Homo sapiens: one gene and its partner. The protein of the gene in region 2 interacts with the protein of the main gene of each other region in a pairwise test. Each region holds a gene or a part of one and is shown on either strand. Other genes may lie near its edges.

Region 1 (8,077 bases), on a different chromosome or scaffold from region 2:
ATTTGCTCACAAGGGAATTCTTTGTGAGCCCCAAGATCTTCACCCTAAAACAGTTCTGCTGAATGACACCCTGATGATGTAAATTGACAGCTTATCATCACAGGTATGGGAGAAAGGACAGAACTATAAGTCATCCCTCCATTCACCTGAGACAAATGCATATTTGACTGCTTATATAAAAATCCAGATTCACTAAGCATGAAATGAATGCATAATTAACTATTCCTCTACCCCCTCCTTTCACATGTAAAATGCAGATTCAGTGAATGCTGATCAAAGACTCAAAGGAATGCAACCACTTGCCTCTTTTATCTACCCTCCCTTTTTTTCCCTTTTCTCTTTCCCCTAATGCCCACACTTTTCCCTTTAAATAATGATGTCCCCAGACGCACTTTGGAAAAAGCACGAATCACAGATGTTTCCTATGGTTTTCTGTTCCTTTTTTCCTGGATGTGTCCTAAACCTTAGCTAAATAAATCTCTAAATTTTTGACTGAAAGCTGTCTCAAATATTTTTTGGGTTACAGCAGCTATTGCATCTAGATATACAATATAAATTAATGTAAAATATCATATGCTTGTAATTTCATACATGCTAGAGATATCATCCCAATCAGGGAAAGCTGCAAGAAGAAAGTGTTGGTGGTAAAGCACAACTTCCTAGATTTTTGCTGTCAGTGGGCTGGTTGGAATTTAAACTCTTTGAGTATTAAAAACAAATCAGTCTTCATAACTGATTATTTCTGCTATTATTGTTACCTATTGGAGCCTCTAGGAAAAAAAGAGGCAATAGAGAAAGAGAGGCAGTCTCCGTTGCTAATGTGCTCTTGTGGGATTAGATGTCTGATCCTTTGGAGCAGACCATCCATCCTGATGTGGGTCAGTTTGGACTCCAAGTCTGACAAAGCAGAACAGGCTTCAGAAAGCCTTGTTTGTCACTTGGAATACAGCCGTCACTCCTGCAGCATCTAAGCTTTGGTGCTGCTGAAGAAAGGCCACTGGCTGTTTTGGAGTCCTGCATTCACAGACCCCAGCTGCCTGGAACTGACTCTAAGCTAAAACCTGACACTATCTACCACAAGCTGTTTCAACCTCAGCACAAGCTGCAATGAACTGGAAGTGTAAGCAGACAGCAAGGGTTTCCAGGGATTATAGGAATTTAATCAACTCAGCAATCAGCCTTTTACAGCCTACCATCCTGTAGCCTGTTTCTTCCTAAACCTTGCATAGAATGCAGTCATGTGGTTGGTTAAAACCAGCTCCTAACAGATCCCAGCAACCTACAGATGAATCTGAGTGAACTTTCCTCATTACCATGCTAAAGTCTCCACCCCGGAGGAGCTACAGCTTCATTACCATAGCATGCAACCTATGTGTTGGCACGATGACTCACTGCATCTGTGCAACTGGGACCCCTCCTCTGCATGTGCCGATGCACCCTCTCCCCTCTCCATCACCCATAAAACCCTCCTGTCACTTTTCGTAGGGAAGACTGCTTTGGAGAATCCTCACAGTGTCCTCCTTACTTGTGCCAAGTAATAAAACTGCTATTGATCCACACCTGTGTTCTCATGAAAAGTTGTTTGTTACTAAACGAATGATCCCCGTTTTTTTTCGAGTAACAGAAGTGGGCATGTATGGTTTCTTCTGATAGCAACCAAATACATGTCATTTGTCCACATCAATCAGTCCTGCAATTCTCCAACACTGACCGCATGTTCAACAATCCGACTCAATTCCGACGCTAACTATCCAGAGTTAGGCTCAGCCTCCACAGGTAAAGTCTCCAGGCTCAGCAACAAATGGAGTTCCCTGGCTACTCACATTTCTACCTGGCTGACTACAAATGGTGGAGACCCCCTAAATCCCCTTTAAATTTGATAATTCCCTAGAACAACTTCCAAAATTTAGAAAACTGCTTTACTTATGATTGTCAGTTTATTATAAAGGATACAACTCAGCAACAGCTACATGGAAGAAACTAAGAAGAAACTAATATGGGGGGCAGTGATTGTGCACAGCTTCCATTGTTAAAGAAAAAATTATCTAATGATACAAGCTTGATATCCACTGCACTGGGATTTTGCAGCAAGAGAGAGAGATGGGGCTCAAACTTGAACACAGCACGGGCAAGTGGGAATTCATAGGCAAGGAGAAGCATACAGGTCAGTGGATGCAAAATTACAAAGAGGAAACCTCAGGGGCAAGAGAGATTCTGGTTAAACCACACTAACAGGATTCTTGCTGAAGACAGGCCGGGGTGATCAGACATCACCTGGAGGACAGTGAGAAGGATGAACCCGGTCAGATATTGAGGGTGGGAAGTTCCTGCTAAACTGACTTGGCAGGGTCCTTTGCTAAAATTAGATTTTACAAGGAAGTACAGATGTGCCTAGGAAGAGGTTTGGGAACCTGACTAAAATGTGGTCACACAGAGAATCTTTGCCACCATGCCCTCTCCAGCCAGGCCAGTCTCCCACCACATCTGTGTTCACCTGCCCCAAAGCTCTCCCAACCCCGTCATGTAGGGGTTTCTACGGAGGCTGCATAATGTAGACATTACTGATTAAATAATGGTGATCAGTCCCCAACCTGAAGTTATCCAGCTCTCCCTCCTCAACCAAGAGCCACCTCATTAGCATAAACTCAGATTTGTTTGACAGAGACTCCTTCTGAATAACATGACATCCTATCACTCAGGAAATTCCAAGGGTCTTAGGACCTCTGTGTCTGGAACTGGGGTCAAAGACCAAAAATATATTTTTTTATCATGCCACATAAGGCATAAATAAACTTTTATTATGCTACAAGGCATAAATTTATTTAAAAATAAAAATTTTTATTATGCCACAAGGCAAAAACCCAGACTCTGGGATTGTTGAATGCAGACTCTTGTGGGGGCCCCCTTAAAGAGTTTTGTGATCCTAAATATTTCAAAATGGAGTCACTTACGACAAGTGACTCAGCCCACAGTGAAACTGCTGAACCCTCAAAATGATAAACATAGGTATAAAGGACTGAGGTAATAAGATAACATCTGCTGTGGCCAGACACCCCCAAGACCTGATGAGAAACTGAAACCAAAAGGTGGCTGAGATAATGACCATGGACACTCCTGCAGAGGGCCATAAAAACAGCAAAGAAACTGACCACGGCAAGACACCTGTAGAAGCTCTGCCCGAGAAAGCTCTGAGGCTTCCTCATGATATCCACAGCGGTCCCTGGAAGCTCTGCCCAAACACAGCAACATCGTTCAACAGTGTTTTGAGTGAAACCCAGAGGCATGCTAACCTAAACAACAGAAATGGGGGTTTTTTGTTTTGTTTTGCTTTGAGACATGGTTTCACTCCAGTTGCCCAGGCTAGACTGCAGTGGAGCAATCTCAGCTGACTGCAGCCTGACTTCTGGGTTCAGGCGATCCTCCCATCTCCGCCTCCCAAGTAGCTGAGAGTACAGGCACATGCCACCATGCCCGGCTAATTTTTTTTTCTGTATTTTTAGCAGAGACGGGGTCTCGCCATGTTGGCCAGGCTGGTCTTGAACTCGTGGGCTCAAGTGATCCACCTGTCTAGGCCTCTGGTTGGGTGTGAAAATATGGCCCAGTTCTGGCCAATGGAGAAGGGAACAGGTCATCTGGGGAACTGTGGGAAAGACTTAACTCCCTGAAAAAAAGACAAATGAGAATTATCTTTCCCTCCATCTTTTGGGCATAGCCAGGTAAAAATGGGCCACTCAAGGCTGCTACAGCCATGGGAGTCCCTGCAGGGCAACAGTGCAGACCCAGGACCAGTGCAATGGAGACAGCCTGCTGAGTCCTTGGTGACCTTGGTGAGCCACTAAACCCAACCTGAGTCACCCTCTTCCTGCCTTTCTGTTACCGAGACAATGGGTGTCCAGGCTGTTGAAGCCCTTTTGAGTTTAGTTCTGCTTCTTGCACCCAAATGCATTTTAATGGGGCCATGAGCTCCCAGGCTCCACATGGTCTAAGGTACCCCTCACCTCCAGGGCATCCCCATGGAATGAAACACCCCCTCTGGCCTTCTCCCAAGACTTCTGGCCCAATATTTTCTGGGTGTCTTTACAAGACAATGTCCTATGGGGTGCACTGGGGATTGACATCTCCCTGCCTCCGAATGCCTCCCCTTCCTGGAGTAGGAAGAGCTGCCCAGGGTTCTTTTTAGAAGAGACCTTTATTTTGGCCAGGTGCGGTGGCTCACACCTGTAATCCCAGCATTTTGGGAGACCGACGGGGAGGCAGATCACAAGGTCAAGAGATCGAGACCATCCTGGCCAACATGGTGAAACCCCGTCTCTACTAAATATGGAAAAATGAGCCAGGCATGGCAGCAGGTGCCTGTAATCCCAGCTACCTGGGAGGCTGAGGCAGGAGAATCACTTGAACCCGGGAGGCAGAGGTTGCAATGAGCCGAGATCGCACCATTGCACTCCAGTCTGGGTGACAAGAGCGAAACTCTGTCTCAAAAAAACAAACAAACAAACAAACAAACAAACAAAAAAGAAAAAAAAAGAAAAGACCTTTATTTCTCAAGCAAGGGCAGAAATTCAGGGCTCCCCTTCGACTCTGGCTGCTCCCAAGGTGGCTTTAAAGCACCAATGAGTCCATGGCTTGTGTAAGAAATGATTAGTCCTTCCATCTAGAGAAATAGCTCCTTTTTAAACAGTTGTCTCTTTTAAACAGTGTTTAGTATTTAAGTGAGGTTGAAACAGTGTCAAAAGGAAAGTGAAAGTGAAATTCTCTCCTTCAGCATAAAAGCTGATCCACAAACAAGAGGAGCACCAGACCTCCTCTTGGCTTCGAGATGGCTTCGGTAAGTTTCCCAGGGCTTTGCATTACTGACTCTACAGCAGTTGGGCAGCTCCCCCTAGGAAAGGCCTCAGTCCAGGCTCCTGGCCTTGGGCACACAGCTCCAGAGCTCGTCTTTAGAAGGCTGTCATGGAAAACTGTATTTGTCTTTTAAAAGTGCATCTGCCCAGCTGGACAGGGAGTCCTCTGGGCAGAGTCCACCTCCTCTGCGTAACTGGCACAGTGCGGGGAGCCCGGGACTCCCATGTAGTAGAGAGCTGTGGGGTGCCGGGTGTCAAATCTACCTCAGCCTGAGGAGAAGCCAGAGTGTGGGCAGGTGGGGGACTCTGGGTTGTGGGAAGCAAGCAAATCCCAACATCGTCTGCTTCTGCTGTGACTGGGGCTCAGTCCCTTCTCGGCCCCAAACGATGCTTTCTCTCTCCTCGTTCCTCTGTGGCATCATCCAGCCTTCTAAGGTGCATTCTAATCTCAGCAGCTTTCTGAAAACTGAAATTTCTCCTCCTATCAGCCCAGATGTACCGATTGGCAGAAGCTCTAGGGAGAGCAGGCTGAGCTCGGTGGTGTGTGACTAAAAAGGAACAGCGGGGCTCAGGCTATTACTAGAAACAAAACCATTCCGGGAAGGAGTCCTGCAAATTCTGGAGGGCAGCCCACTCCAACAGCACCACCTGATCCTGGGGAAGGGCTTTACTGCTGCCAAAACAAATCAGGGCTTTTAACAGGGAGCCCAGGCCAAAGCTCATATCTCACTGGCCACCAGCTGAGGTTGCCAGTACCTTGACTGTGGTTTTAGACATTCAGCATTGCAGTTAAAAGCCCCTCTCTCTCCCCACATGGAAACCATCTCCTGTGGTGCCCTGACATACAGAGGAGGAGCTGGGAGGGAGTCCTGGCCCTGCTCCTTTCTCCTCCCTCTTCCTTGTCTATTTCCTTGCCCCATTCTACGCCAGGCCCTTCACTGGGTCCTGGAGGTGCAGGGAGGGAGGAGCACACAGGATCCTGCCTGCCTGGAGCTCACAGCCCAGAGGGGCACAGGGAGGCACAGGGAATTGCAGCTCAACTTGACCCCTGCAGAGAGCAGCAGAGGCCCCCGGGGACCCAGGTCCTAGGAGTGGGGTGGCGGGTCAGCTGAGCCAGGCTGGGGCCATCAGGGCAGCTTCTCAGGTGAGGGGGTTTGAGGGAGGGGAAGAGGAAGAGTGGCTGCAGGGAAGTGATGGAGGCAGGGAGAACCAGATGTGCAGAGCAGCAGAGACCAGAGCCAGGGCAGTAGTGAGGGGCTGGGATGTCACTCAGTGGGCCTGTGGGTGCAGAGCCCAGGGAGGGAGAGGAGGGTGAGGAAGGGCCAGTCAGGAAGGGCCTGGGAGCTGCCCACAGGGTGTGTCCTGGGCCCTGAGGTCAGAGGACGGTCATGGCCAGATGTGCCCTTGGGAAGGCCACCATGGGTTCTGAGGAGTTGGATATGGAGTGGCAGGGACAGGAGGCAGGGGCTGGTCAGGGGGTTGTGGGGGTCACAGAGGCAGGCATGGGGCTGCCTGAACCAAGTCAGTGGATGGGATATTGACAAGCACACCAACAAGGAGAAGCTTCCGGAGTCCACATTGATTGGTTTTAGTGACTGGATATTGGCATGAGGAAGAGGGCAAAGGAGAGCAGACCCCAGGTCTATGATGGGACATCCTGGGATGAGGGAGGAGGAGGCTGTCACCCACTGAGGACAGGGACAGAGAGGGTGAAAATGGAAAAATCCTCCAGTCATGAGGCTGCTATGCCCTGGGGCAGGACATGGAGAAGTGGGAAGGAGGTGAGGAAGGGGAAGAAGGTGGCCAAGACAGGAACCAGGGTGAGGGGTGTGCAGGGAAGAACCAGCTCGGCCTCCTTCCAGCTGAGTGTTCTCAGGAAAGCCCTGCCACCTCTCTGATCCTCAGTTTCCCCATCTGTGCAATGGGATGATCATGCCTTCCCCTGGGGCTGTGGAGATGGTGCAGTTATTGTAGGACAAGTTCCCACAGAGGCCTGTTCTGTGAGTGCAGAGCCCCCTCAGTGCTGGGAGCTGGGGGGCCCCACAAGACCCCACTCAGGTCCCAGCAGGATGCTGTGAGCTCCTGTCTCCCAGGGTGTCATCTCCAAGAGATAGGTGTCCTGAGGCTGGATGGGGCAAGGTCTGAGGAGGAGGTGGCTCTTGGGGCCATGGAGAGGCACAGGGCAGGAGTGATGAGGAACTGAGGGTCAGTCTGCAGAGGGCGGAGAGCTCAAGACTCACCTTCCCAGCCTTGCTCCTGGCCTCAGTGAAGGTGCTGGTTCATGCAGGCTCTTGAGTCGGCCTACTGAGGAGCATGTGTACAATGCACACATGCACACACATCTGCATCCTCAGCATGCACACACACAGCACACACATGTCACACATGCGCCCAGACGGTCCTTCTGTCTCCCATCCCACAAGATCATTCTCCAGGCTTCCAGCCCCCAGTGCCCCCACTGAGAAGAGCCTCTGAAAGTGACAGCAGGGCTGAGGATCTCATGGGGCTAGCAGCTGATGAACATCAGCAAGGCGTCTCCAGGATGAGCTGCAGCTCCCCCAGCCAGGGTCTCTGCTGTTGCCTAGAAGGCCGGGTACTCCATCTCTGGCTTTTCTGTTGCAGCCACACCAAGAGCCCAAACCTGGAGACCTGATTGAGATTTTCCGCCTTGGCTATGAGCACTGGGCCCTGTATATAGGAGATGGCTACGTGATCCATCTGGCTCCTCCAAGTAAGGACTGATGAATATATAATTTTCAAAATATTTGTTAAAAGGATAATGAGAGGGCCGGGCACGGTGGCTCATGCCTGTAATCCCAGCACTTTGAGAGGCCGAGGTGGGCAGATTACCTGAGGTCAGGAGTTCAAGACCAGACTGACCAACATGGAGAAACCCCATCTCTACTAAAAATACAAAATTAGCCAGGTGTGGTGGCACACACCTGTAATCCCAGCTACTCAGGAGGCTGAGGCAGGAGAATCACTTGATCCCCGGAGGCAGAGGTTGCAGTGAGCCGAGATCGTGCCATTGCACTCTAGCCTGGGCAACAAGAGCAAAACTTGATCTCAAAAAATAAAAAAATAAGTCAATGAGAGCCACTGAAAGACAGTTAAGCAAGGGAAACTTGAGTTAGGAGACACATTCTTCTTAGAGGATGCTTGATGAGATTGCACACACATATGTCCCATGAAGTAGACACAGTGCATTCCATAGGTCCTGGCAGAACGGAAGA
Region 2 (6,970 bases):
GCACTGATGGGAGTGTCTCTTAGCATGCTAATGTAGTATAATTAGCATATAATGAGCAGTGAGACCAACAGTTTCATTGCCATCCTGTTTTTGGTGGTTTTTGGCAAGCTTCTTTATTGCAACCTGTTTTATCAGCAAGGTCTTTATGACCTGTATCTTGTGCAGACCTCCTATCTCATTCTGTTACGTAGGATGCTTAACTTACTGGGAATGCGGCCCAGCAGGTCTCAGCCTTATTTTACCCAGCCCCTATTCAAGATGTAGGCACTCTGGTTCAAACACCTGACATTTTCCCCCTCCCTTTTGTAAGAAAACCCTTAATCCTAAGGGTTGCAGAGGGACAAAGATCCATCTTCTATAACTTCTTCATGCTGAATAGGGTGATGATATTCCTGCTTAACTATTAGGGCCTCTTGTATCCATGGTAGAGAGGGGTTCAGTCAGAAAGGGCCAGTATGGTGAGGGCCATTCATAACTCTTAGTTCTGACAAAAGGTGATATCCAAAGTCCTCCAATCAGTGCTGCAGTCCATTTCCTTTGATTCGGGAGTCTCCTCCGTCTCATCCCTTCTGTGGTTCTCCAGAAAGATGTTACCAGAAAGGGGTCCCGATCCAGACCCCAAGGGAGAGGGTTCTTGGATCTTGCACAAGGTAGAATTCAGGGTGAGTCCATAGAGTAAAGTGAAAGCAAGTTTATTAAGACAGTAAAGGAATAAAAGAATGGCTACTTCATAGGCAGAGGAGCTGCAGCAAGCATCTTTTACACGTAGTCTCTGAAGAGCTCCTTACAATAGAGTTTCCAGGGCAAAACTGCCACCTTAAAGGGCAAGCGATGTCTAAGGTTTTGCCAAATTGCTTCCAGAGTGGTTGCTCTAGAATAACCAGTGGCCAGCAGTGCAGGAGAGCACCTGCTTCCCTGTTCCCTTGGGTGCATTCATTTTTCATTTGGGACAGATATACTAAAAAAGTTGGGGATAAGGATTTTGGCAGCATAATTGTGGAGACAGTGTTGCCAATTCCTGCTCCAGGACCATATGGTTCAGCTGAATATGGCAGAACCAGATTCTCTGCCTGGCTGAATGTCCCTGTCCCCTGCCCTGAGTCTCTTCCAAAATACGCTGAGTGTCTCTTCTCCTTTCCGCCCATCCAGGTGCCTCTAGATAACCATATCCCTGAGAGGGCAGGGTCTGGGAGCCAAGTCCCCACCGAACCCAAGAAACTAGAGGAGAATGAGGTTATCCCCAAGAGAATCTCACCCGTTGAAGAGAGTGAGGATGTGTCCAACAAGGTGTCAATGTCCAGCACTGTGCAGGGCAGCAACATCTTTGAGAGAACGGAGGTCCTGGCAGGTAAGTCCCCATGCTGCTTATAAGATGCCTTGAAGGTGGAATGGGGCTCAGCGGGGGAGAGCACCTGCAGGCAGGGATGCCTCCAGCCATGAGGCTCCTTGGTGCCCCTTCCTTTTGCCTATTCAGGTTGCCCTAGAACATTGAAAGACTACACCTTCCTTATGGGGTGGCTCTGACTGTGCAGCCTGGTGGAGGGAGAGGAAAAAGCACCTATCAAAGTCTTCTGGAAAATAGGCATTGAGTCATTCTTCTGCCTTAAGTCTTTCTCATTTATTTTGCAAAGGACTTTCACTGTATAAGTTTGGCATCTGGGAGTTAATCATTAAAAGTTAATTTCCCTTGTAAGTCTGGAGGCTCCTTCGAATTGGGTTAGCTTCCCCTCCCCCTACTCTATCACTTGGCAGCCTTGTGACCTTGGCTGAGAAGCTTTCGAACTTGATGAGCCTCAGTTTCCTTATCTGTAAAATGGGTACAGTGATACCTTCTGGGGTTGATATAATGAGTCCATGAAAAATAAAATATGAAATAACTTTGCACACTATAAAGGGCTATTCCGATTTGGCCTCAGTTGAGAGTTCTTTACTGGAATGTGCGGTGAGGAATGCTTTGTCCCAGGTGTTGACAAAAGGGATGGAGGGAACTCCCCAAGGTCATGGCCGAGGGCCAGCCTGGATGAACCGGCCTGGCAAGTGGGCACCCTGGGCCCATGCTGGGTAACTCCTGTCTCCTGGGAATCAACAGAGCCAGCAGCTCCAAGGAGGCTTGAGCTATAGGGACAGAGCCTGGCTTCATCCAGGACAGATGGAAGGTCTCACCTGCCTCTTGTAAAGAGGGTTCCTGGGAGCACAGCCCCTGATGACTGGGCCCACCTCAGCCCTGACCCTGGCTTCCTGGTATCTGAGCCAAAGTTCTTTTTACTTTTCTTTCAGAAGTAAAAAGATTTGCATAAGACTTTGGATTTGCATAAGGTTTTGCTCTAATTAACTAAAGGTGCTATTGCTTCTAAAGAAAAATTTGAAAACCACTGATTAATCTAAGCACCTGCTTCTTATACATGGGGAGACTGAGGCCCAGGCTTTAGGCCACATAGTAAGAAAAGAACTGAAGCCAGGTTATCTCTTTAATCTTCCATTTGAGAATTATACAAGCCTAAGAGCCTCATGTGAAAAGTTATATTGTTAGCTGGTGTGGTGGAATCCCCCATTCCAGAAGCTTTAATCAGCACCCAGGAGCCTTATTAAATGCTTGCTGTATGCTGTATGATTCCTGTGCCCCTGATTGAGTCCGTACAACACAAAACTCAGTCTAAAGAACTTATCCGAAGTCACAAAGCTGGAAGTGGCAGACCTGGCATTTGGACTGAGGACCACAGTCAGCTTCTGAGCCTGTGCTTGAAACTTGACCCTGTGGGGCATCCCAGCGCAGACCCAGGGCCTCGTGGAGGAACTGGGGTCATCAGAGGGAAAGGTGATAGAGACAAGAATGGGGTTGATGCCTGATATTCCATGTGCTTGCTCTGGCACCTCCTGGGGGTACTTTTTTGTTGCTTTTTCATAGGATTTTACCCAAGAAAGAACCTTGCTTGACTCCTCTGTGCCACTCTGTCCCCATTGTGTACATAGATTTGTAGTGTGTGCAGGGATGGAAAATTAATCTTCTTAGCCCGAGTAAGACCGAATTAGGGAACTCAATCTGCCACAGAAGGGATTCTATGAAGCATCCCTGCCCCTAGCAAACAGGAATGAGTCATTCAGGCCACCTGGCAGAGTGGACAGGCCAGACCCACTCACTGTTAGAAGCCCATCTCTGCCCAACACTAGGCAGGTTCTCCTCTCGGAGCCTGAAAGTATCATTTATTAAGCACCTCCTGTTGTGCACACCTGATTCAGGGGGTTCGGGACACAGATATAAACCTTAAACCCTTACAGTTAATGAATCTTGAGAATATGCTATGCACTAGGCATTGTTCTAAGCACTTTGAGTGGATTAATTTATTTAATCCTTAGGACAAATGTATGAGAAAGGTATGGCTCTTCCCATTTTGCGGTAGGGAGATGAAGGAAACTTGCCCCAAATCACACAGCCAGGAAGTAGGAGAGGTAGGAGTGGAAACCAGGCCTTAGCTACTGAGTTCTGTATGTAATTGTAACATAAGAGTTTGGAATTAGTATGTTCTGCATGTGTGCACTTTGAATGTACATACCTGTCTATGAAGTGTAGGCTATATAGGTAAATATGCACACAGGGAGAGCTAGAGAGTGCCCTGTGCTAAGGACTGCAGGATAAATATGTCTACAGGGATTTCCATAGCCTACGGTTTTCTCCTGTTCCTGGTTCAGTTAGTGCTAGACTGTTGCAGGGGAGTCCGCGTGGTGTTTGGAAAGAGCCTAGGCTTTAGATTCAGGCAGATGTGGGTTAAAATAGTGGCCTTGGCCGAGTGCGGTGGCTCACGCCTGTAATCCCAGCACTTTGGGAGGCCGAGATGGGCAAGGTCAGGAGTTCAAGACCAGCCTGGCCAACATAGTGAAACCCTATCTCTACTAAAAATACAAAAATTAGCCGGGCATGGTGGCACGTGCCTATAATCCCAGCTACTCAGGAGGCTGAGGCAGGAGAATTGCTTGAACCTGGGAGGTGGAGGTTGCAGTAAGCCGAGATCACGCCACTGCACTCAGCTCGGGCAACAGAGTGAGACTTCGTCTCAAAAAGAAAAAGGAGTGGCCTTACCACTAGCCCTGTGGTCTTCAGTGACTTAAAATGCCAACGACCCACTTCTTATAACTGGGGTCATGAGGTCAACTTAAATAAGGCATCAGCTTGCCTGGCACAGGCAGTGGTGATGGTGAGGATGTCTGGTTGTAAGAGAACTGACAGTGGGGGAAAGAGGGGTTCATCCTTAGGTCCTGATGAGGAGCTCTCACCCCCGCCTCTTCTCTCTCCTCCTCTCCAGCTCTGATTGTGGGTGGCATCGTGGGCATCCTCTTTGCCGTCTTCCTGATCCTACTGCTCATGTACCGTATGAAGAAGAAGGATGAAGGCAGCTATGACCTGGGCAAGAAACCCATCTACAAGAAAGCCCCCACCAATGAGTTCTACGCGTGAAGCTTGCTTGTGGGCACTGGCTTGGACTTTAGCGGGGAGGGAAGCCAGGGGATTTTGAAGGGTGGACATTAGGGTAGGGTGAGGTCAACCTAATACTGACTTGTCAGTATCTCCAGCTCTGATTACCTTTGAAGTGTTCAGAAGAGACATTGTCTTCTACTGTTCTGCCAGGTTCTTCTTGAGCTTTGGGCCTCAGTTGCCCTGGCAGAAAAATGGATTCAACTTGGCCTTTCTGAAGGCAAGACTGGGATTGGATCACTTCTTAAACTTCCAGTTAAGAATCTAGGTCCGCCCTCAAGCCCATACTGACCATGCCTCATCCAGAGCTCCTCTGAAGCCAGGGGGCTAACGGATGTTGTGTGGAGTCCTGGCTGGAGGTCCTCCCCCAGTGGCCTTCCTCCCTTCCTTTCACAGCCGGTCTCTCTGCCAGGAAATGGGGGAAGGAACTAGAACCACCTGCACCTTGAGATGTTTCTGTAAATGGGTACTTGTGATCACACTACGGGAATCTCTGTGGTATATACCTGGGGCCATTCTAGGCTCTTTCAAGTGACTTTTGGAAATCAACCTTTTTTATTTGGGGGGGAGGATGGGGAAAAGAGCTGAGAGTTTATGCTGAAATGGATTTATAGAATATTTGTAAATCTATTTTTAGTGTTTGTTCGTTTTTTTAACTGTTCATTCCTTTGTGCAGAGTGTATATCTCTGCCTGGGCAAGAGTGTGGAGGTGCCGAGGTGTCTTCATTCTCTCGCACATTTCCACAGCACCTGCTAAGTTTGTATTTAATGGTTTTTGTTTTTGTTTTTGTTTGTTTCTTGAAAATGAGAGAAGAGCCGGAGAGATGATTTTTATTAATTTTTTTTTTTTTTTTTTTTTTTTACTATTTATAGCTTTAGATAGGGCCTCCCTTCCCCTCTTCTTTCTTTGTTCTCTTTCATTAAACCCCTTCCCCAGTTTTTTTTTTATACTTTAAACCCCGCTCCTCATGGCCTTGGCCCTTTCTGAAGCTGCTTCCTCTTATAAAATAGCTTTTGCCGAAACATAGTTTTTTTTTAGCAGATCCCAAAATATAATGAAGGGGATGGTGGGATATTTGTGTCTGTGTTCTTATAATATATTATTATTCTTCCTTGGTTCTAGAAAAATAGATAAATATATTTTTTTCAGGAAATAGTGTGGTGTTTCCAGTTTGATGTTGCTGGGTGGTTGAGTGAGTGAATTTTCATGTGGCTGGGTGGGTTTTTGCCTTTTTCTCTTGCCCTGTTCCTGGTGCCTTCTGATGGGGCTGGAATAGTTGAGGTGGATGGTTCTACCCTTTCTGCCTTCTGTTTGGGACCCAGCTGGTGTTCTTTGGTTTGCTTTCTTCAGGCTCTAGGGCTGTGCTATCCAATACAGTAACCACATGCGGCTGTTTAAAGTTAAGCCAATTAAAATCACATAAGATTAAAAATTCCTTCCTCAGTTGCACTAACCACGTTTCTAGAGGCGTCACTGTATGTAGTTCATGGCTACTGTACTGACAGCGAGAGCATGTCCATCTGTTGGACAGCACTATTCTAGAGAACTAAACTGGCTTAACGAGTCACAGCCTCAGCTGTGCTGGGACGACCCTTGTCTCCCTGGGTAGGGGGGGGGGAATGGGGGAGGGCTGATGAGGCCCCAGCTGGGGCCTGTTGTCTGGGACCCTCCCTCTCCTGAGAGGGGAGGCCTGGTGGCTTAGCCTGGGCAGGTCGTGTCTCCTCCTGACCCCAGTGGCTGCGGTGAGGGGAACCACCCTCCCTTGCTGCACCAGTGGCCATTAGCTCCCGTCACCACTGCAACCCAGGGTCCCAGCTGGCTGGGTCCTCTTCTGCCCCCAGTGCCCTTCCCCTTGGGCTGTGTTGGAGTGAGCACCTCCTCTGTAGGCACCTCTCACACTGTTGTCTGTTACTGATTTTTTTTGATAAAAAGATAATAAAACCTGGTACTTTCTAAACTGCTTGCCTCTGTCATTTTCGTTCATAACAAGTCATCCTTTTTGGGCTCTGTATCCCCTTGATCTCAGTGGAGCATGAAGAAACTCCCCGGACCAAATCCCCTACGGGGTGCCAGACATGCCGGGGGTGGGCAGAGGGTGGGGGCAGAGAGGTAAGAAGGCAGGAAGGGGCCTAGAGAAGAGGGAAGACTTCAGAACATGCACCCTGATGGCCTATGCAGCATATCACCCCTACTTCAAGGTTTTGTTTAGGTGGCACTGTGTTTAAATAGCAAACACAAAAATCTTTGCGTCAGTTGCCATCCATAGAAATCAGGAGGTTTCTCATAAAAATCCAGATTTCTCACTTTTCTTGGGAAAAAGAAATAAAAAAAATTGGCAACTGTCAGCCTGCATGGCAACAAGAGAGCTGCTGAGCGGCAGGCACCCATCTAGATGTGGGCTCTCCGCACCACTGTCTCCGCCTGCTTCACTCAGGCCACTGCTGCAGCCAGGCTGGCTGGCAGTCTCCGGAAATAGCATGGGCCATCTTTCTTGACCACTA

What was found.
Region 1: the proteins of SDC4 (region 2) and PLAAT4 interact in a two-hybrid assay, tested with the Homo sapiens proteins (one study listed by BioGRID).

Annotation. Positions count from the first base shown.
Region 1 is NC_000011.10:63,532,050-63,540,126, forward strand, and holds the start of PLAAT4 (phospholipase A and acyltransferase 4), read left to right. Parts: upstream 1-4,758; 5' UTR 4,759-4,819; coding exon 4,820-4,828; intron 4,829-7,466; coding exon 7,467-7,575; intron 7,576-8,077. UniProt on the Homo sapiens protein: Exhibits both phospholipase A1/2 and acyltransferase activities. Shows phospholipase A1 (PLA1) and A2 (PLA2), catalyzing the calcium-independent release of fatty acids from the sn-1 or sn-2 position of glycerophospholipids.
Region 2 is NC_000020.11:45,324,744-45,331,713, reverse strand, and holds the end of SDC4 (syndecan-4 precursor), read left to right. Parts: intron 1-1,149; coding exon 1,150-1,348; intron 1,349-4,298; coding exon 4,299-4,450; 3' UTR 4,451-6,426; downstream 6,427-6,970. UniProt on the Homo sapiens protein: Cell surface proteoglycan which regulates exosome biogenesis in concert with SDCBP and PDCD6IP.